Linked DNA regions of Homo sapiens: region 1 is linked to region 2. Evidence: fine-mapped expression QTL. Tissue or cell type: lung. Region 2 holds a variant in brackets; the other region holds the start of a gene. All regions are shown on one strand. Distances are from middle to middle.

What was found. PIP is the estimated chance that this variant, and not a neighbour inherited with it, causes the effect. A credible set is the group of variants that fine-mapping cannot tell apart.
Region 1: PAOX starts here. The variant in region 2 is the best candidate, but not a certain one, in a credible set for the expression of PAOX in lung (TOPMed, PIP 0.78).

Annotation. Positions count from the first base shown.
Region 1 is chr10:133,378,025-133,380,925 of GRCh38, reverse strand. PAOX (polyamine oxidase) reads right to left here and starts at 1,664. Exons shown (of 7, transcript NM_152911.4): 1 at 1,429-1,664; 2 at 441-927. The coding sequence starts at 1,609. It overlaps LOC124902563 (a long non-coding RNA gene), which reads left to right and starts at 2,035. Exons shown (of 2, transcript XR_007062395.1): 1 at 2,035-2,901. RefSeq lists silencers at 1,329-1,738, 1,839-2,098 and an enhancer at 2,072-2,571.
Region 2 is chr10:133,298,242-133,301,142 of GRCh38, reverse strand. It overlaps TUBGCP2 (tubulin gamma complex component 2), which reads left to right. Exons shown (of 18, transcript NM_006659.4): 3 at 1,030-1,158; 4 at 1,540-1,716. Among named protein-coding and RNA genes, the nearest start is that of TUBGCP2, 9.2 kb to the left of the region's middle. The variant C/T (reference allele first, on the strand shown) is at 1,398.

The DNA.
Region 1 (2,901 bases), 80 kb before region 2:
GCTCACTGCAACCTCCGCCTCCCAGGTTCAAGCAATTCTCCTGCCTCAGCCTCCCGAGTAGCTGGGATTACAGGCATGCACCATCACGCCCGGCTAATTTTTGTATTTTTAGTAGAGATGGGATTTCACCATGTTGGCCAGGCTGTTCTTGAACTCCTGACCTCATGATCCACCTGCCTCAGCCTCCCAAAGTGCTGGGATTACAGGCGTGAGCCACCGCACTCAGCCTTACCTTTCCTTCTTTTAAACACTCTCTCTCAGAAATAACTTTTTTGGCTTAAATGAGCAAAACTAGGGAAAGGAGCAACCAGTCTGTCGGAATGGGGAGGACAAATGGTCTCCTGTCCCTCCCATACCCAAGCAAGAGCGGAGCTCAGCCAGCCCCGGTGCCCTGGGGAGCCTGGTGGGAGGACTGGCGGGGCAGGGGCTCAGGCACGCACTTAGAAAAGGTGCAGTCCAGCCCCGGCAGCACGGTATACTCCCCAAAGGGTGCCAGGGCCACCAGGTCCATGCTGTGGGTGCCGCTCACACAGCATTCCAGGTTGAAGAAGGAGTTCAGGACGGCCAGCTTCAGCTTCCTGGTCTCCTCATCCTCTGTCCAGCCGGCCACGTGCTGGCCAATCTCCTTCTTGAGGTACTCCCCGACGCTGGGCACCGGGGTCTCTGCAGCGTGCAGGAACTCCCGGGTCTGGTCTATCAGGCCGTAGAACAGAGTCGCCATCTCCGCCACCAGCTGGAGGCTCACGCTGGCCCCGGAGCTGGCGTAGCTCACGGAGGGCAGGCCCACGTGACCCCCGGTCTCCACCAGCTGGTTCTCCTGGGACAGCTCCTTCTCCCCCAGCAGCCCGTACTCAGCAGCCAGCTGGAAGACGGGGTTACCCCGGGAGGGCCCATGGATCCAGTGCGCGCCCACCTCCACCACGCCACCTGCGAGGGGACAGCAGATGCCACCTGGAGGTCCCTTTCCTAGAAGGGTCACCCCGAGCCCTTCTCCTGGGCCACGCCCACGCTGGCCTTCCCAAGGAGGATGTACCACACTGTCCCCAAGGGCCCTGTGGTCCCCCAGGGCAGGGCCCTGTCAGACCCAGTTTAAGGGGAGCACCTGGGCAGGAGGGCACTTGTCGGGCGGTGTGGACCAGAGGGAGGGGCGCAGGGTGGGCGTACCCCGGGGCTGGGGGGGCCCCCGTGGGGCAGAATCAGGGCGGCCTTGTGGAGCCGTAGGTCGCCTTCCCTGGCCGGCGCCCTCCTGACTAACTCTGAGCCCTGAGTTTCGGGGCGGTGAACTCTGGCGGATTAAGCGAGCGGGGATTCCCTCGGGGAGCCCGGTGAGGCGGCCGGGCAGGTCGGCTGCGCGCAGGGCAGGTTGGGGCCGGCGAGTTCGGGCGCAGCCGGTTGGGTTCCGGGAGGGGCTCCGGGAGGGGCGGTTACCGAAGCAGCGCTCCGAGCGGATGCGGCCCCCGGCGCGGGCCGTGGCCTCCAGGACCCGCAGGTGCGGGAAGGCGGAGTGGCCGCAGAGCCTCTGCGCCGCGCCCAGCCCCGCGATGCCGCCGCCCACCACCAGCACCCGGGGTCCGCCCGGGGCCTCCCCGACGCTGCCGGTCGACTCCATCGCGCGGTCCGGGCAGTCCGAGGGCTTCTGAGTAGCCGGGAGGTCTGGAGCTCTCGGAGGAGGCCGGAGGCGGAGCGAGGGGGCGGGGAGGCGCTGGGAGGGGCGGGGAGGGGCGGGGAGGCGCGGGGAGGCGCGGGGAGGGGCGGGGAGGGGCGGGGAGGGGCGGGGAGGCGCGGGGAGGGGCGGGGAGGCGCGGGGAGGGGCGGGGAGGCGCGGGGAGGCGCGGGGAGGCGCGGGGAGGCGCGGGGAGGGGCGGGGAGGGGCGGGGAGGGGCGGGGAAGGGGCCGGGCCGAGCCCCACAGTGCGCCTCGGCCTCCGCGAGCCTCCGGACTGGGCTCGGGTCTCAGAGGGAAGCGCCCCGCGTGGGAGGGCCCGCGAGGACAGGCGTCAGGGAGCGTCCCGCGCTGCCGGGCGGTGCGCGCGAGCGTCCCCATGGAGGGAGAAGCCGGCCGGCCGGGCGGGCCAGTGTCTCCTCCAAGGGAGACGAGGGCGCAGCGAGCGCTTCCCCCAGGGACCCGCGTCGAGTGCGAGGGCGCAGTGGGTCTGGGGGTGCCACGGTGTCAGGGGTGGGACCTGGGAGAGCTTAACGCGTCCGGAGGGGGGCTGTGAAAGCCTCCAGCATCGCCAGCGAGCCGTCAGTTCGCGTGTGCGCGCGCCTGCGTGTGCGCGTGTAGTCACAGGGCTGCAGGGACACAGGACCAAAGTACAAAGTACACTCGCAAAGTACAAAGTTCAGAAGCCGAGGGCAAGTGCAGAAACGTCCCTCGCCCGGGAAGTTGAGCGCACACCCAGGCACGCCTGTGTTTCTGGAGAATCCCCGGTGCAGGCGGCCGAGTTTTCTGCTGCATCGCAGCCCGCGGGGGTTGGAAAGGCTCCCGCCCTGTTTTCAGGCGCGTCCCCGCCTCCTGAGCCCCGGTCCTCTGCCGAGGGGCCGCGCGCTCCAGTTTGCCAGCGTGAGCTTCACTCTTCGCTCTCGGCGTGGGCCTCCTGAGCCGTGTCTTACTTTCCTTTGATTCCCTCTCGTCCCAGCTGGAGAAAAGGCTCCCGGAAGGGTGACCTGGTGTCGCTGGATTCCACTCCCCATCACTCCCTAGCCAACCCCGCGAGCTGAGCTCCAGGCAGGGAGAGGGGCGGGTGCCTGGGAGTCGGGCTGACTCCCTGGGCGGTGGCGGGCAGGGGTCGAGCGTCCTCTGTCCGTCAGGGGCCCGCAGCACCAGGAGGCGACGCTGGATGCAGTGGCCATCTCCTCCTGCCTCCAGGCCATGGGGAACCCAGGGCGGATCCCGGGTCAG
Region 2 (2,901 bases):
GAAAAAGCATAACCCCTAGGGTTGCACATAATAACAAATTCCAGAGGGAACATAGTGAGGTGTATACAATGAACGCATAAACTACTGCGGGGAATACAGTGAGATGCAGACAATGAACGCATAAACTACTGGGGGGAAAAGGTAAGTCGCTACTCTCCAGTACAAACCTGAAGAAGCATAAAAGGGAACACAGTGAGATGCATACAATGAACGCATAAACTACTGGGGGGAAATGCAAGTTGCTACTCTCCAGTACAAACCTGAAGCAGCATAAAAGGGAATACAGTGAAATGTATACAATGAACGCATAAACTACTGGGGGGAAGTGTAAGTCGCTACTCTCCAGTACAAACCTGAAGAAGCATAAAAGGGCGGGCGCAGGGGCTCACACCTGTAACGCCAGCACTTTGGGACGAGGCAGGTGGATGGCTTGAGCCTGGGAGTTTGAGAGCAGTCTGGGCAACATGGTGAAATCCTGTCTCTAGAAAAAATTAAAATAATACGAAGAAGCACAAAAGGAAAGGAACCATAATGGGAAATACGGATAAGGTTTGTTTTGTTTTGTTTTGAGACAGAGTCTTACTCTGTCACCCAGGCTGGAATGCATGTGGCACGATCTTGTCTTACTGCAGTCTCAACCTCCCAGGCTGATGTGATCCTCCCATCTCAGCTTCCCAAGTAGTGACCACAGGCAAGTGCCACCACGCCTCGCTAATTTTTGAATCTTTTTGTAGAAATGGGGTTTTGTTATTTTGGCCAGGCTGGTCTTGAACTCCTGGACTCAAGCAGTCTACCAGCCTCGGCCTCCCAAAGTGCTGGGATTACAGTCATGAGCCACTGCCTAGCTCAAAACATGGATAAGTTTAACACAATATGGAGATGAGTTTTGTTAGTTTATTTCAGAGGGATAATTATTTAACCTACCCAATTTAATTCCATTGGCTTATTGTGTTCAATTTTCGTAAAGGTTTTTTTTTACAGTGCTTTATTAATTACCGTCATTAAATCACTCATGTTTGTGCTTTTGAGGTTAAAATTGCAGAGTTTTCTCGTACTCCAGAAGACTTTCTAAAGAAATATGATGAACTGAAATCTAAAAATACAAGGAACCTTGACCCGCTGGTGTACCTGTTGTCAAAGCTCACGGAAGACAAAGAGGTAGGTGCCCATGCCACGTGCCACACTGCGCCCGTACGGCCCATGTTGGGAGTGGGGTCGCGTCTCCTGCTCACTCCACGCCATCTTCCTGTCAGCTCTTCCTCGCTCACACCAGTAACGCTTCTAGGCCATGTAGGAAATTTTTGGTGAATCAGAATGAAAGATAACCCATGTTGGGTGTAAACATGAGAAGCAGCCTCTGGGGCACTTTGAGCTTCCCGCATGTGTCACGCTCAGTT[C/T]CTGCCTGTCGCACGCGTCGCTTTGCTATTAATGGGTGCCTGTCAGGGTTGGGGAGCCGTCCTGGTGGTGTCGTCCCTACTCTCCCCCTATGGCCAAAGAGGTGCTGGCCCAGTGTGAACACACAGTTTTACATGTTTTCAGACTCTGCAGTACTTACAACAGAATGCAAAAGAAAGAGCTGAGCTTGCAGCCGCTGCTGTGGGCAGCAGTACCACCAGCATCAACGTCCCTGCCGCGGCCTCCAAGATCTCCATGCAGGAGCTTGAGGAACTGAGGAAGCAGCTTGGCAGCGTGGCCACAGGCTCCACGCTGCAGCAGGTACTGCGTCCATGGCTGTCCACAGGCTCCATGCTGCAGCAGGTCCTGTGTCCGTGGCGTCCACAGGCACCCACACTCAGTGCTGTGCCGGGCCCCTGCTGGAAGGACATGTCTCTCTGTCATTTATTGAAAATGAATCCCTTAGAGAGGCCAAGGCTTAATGCTTGATCATGACCTAGCTCTATATGTTTAGTTTTTTTTTTAACCAAGAATTCTGGACCACAAGAATCAATAGCAGCAAGGTTCTGACCCACGTGGGAGTTGTGCTGCCAGGTGGCCACGTGACTCTGAGCCTACCCAATCCTGACTCCCCATTTCCCTCCTCCAATTTTTGACAATTTTGAGGGAATGCTTTCAGATCATTATATTTTCAAGATTCTCGAAAATACAGTAATTTTTATTATTCCTTCTGTATTTGCTACTTGCTCTTGGTTTTGATTTTATGCCCTACCCTGGTCTTTTGACGTAAGTCATCTCCCAGTCTCTCTCATTAGAGCTGCCACGTTCCTGCCTTTGTGACCTTTAAACTCCCTTTGGAGCTGTGTCCCTGAGGCGTCCTAGCCTCCTGGGTGCGTGTTGAGTGCAGCGGCTCCCAAGGACCCAGCCGGTTCTTGCTGGGCACGTTCTGTGCTGGACATGGTGCTAGGCCTCTGTCCACGTCTCCCTCAGCCGTGGCAGAAGACTGGGTCTTACTGCCACGTGCAGAGACAGTTTGCATCTGCCCGTGTCCCTGACCAGCCCTGAGTGGGAGTCAGTGCTTCCGAAAGCTGGGCCAGCCCAGGCCGACCCCATCAGCCTCTGGCGGCCACTGGCGCAGGAGGGCAGGCTCTCTGACCACATGTCAGGAGCCATCCTGTCACGCTGGGGCCCTTCTCCGGCAGGGTAAGGATGCATGTCTGTTGCTGAAGCCTGTCTTCACCCATCAAGTGGTGTTCAGACCTAGTCACTGCCAGAAAGAAGCAATTCAGCTTGTTCACAGGGCGCCCTCCTTTGAAACAGCGGCTCTGTGCCTAGGTGCACCCTCTCCCGTGGTTCCCACTGCTGGTGCTCATGTTTTCCCAGGGGGGCCCTTGCAGGACCTGCACTCCTGAGAAGAGGGGCTAGGGCTCCCCATCTGCCCTGTTGTCCCCAGCCCCTCACGTTGTGGCAGGCAGGGATGTCGAGGCGCATTTCATTTCTATGTGG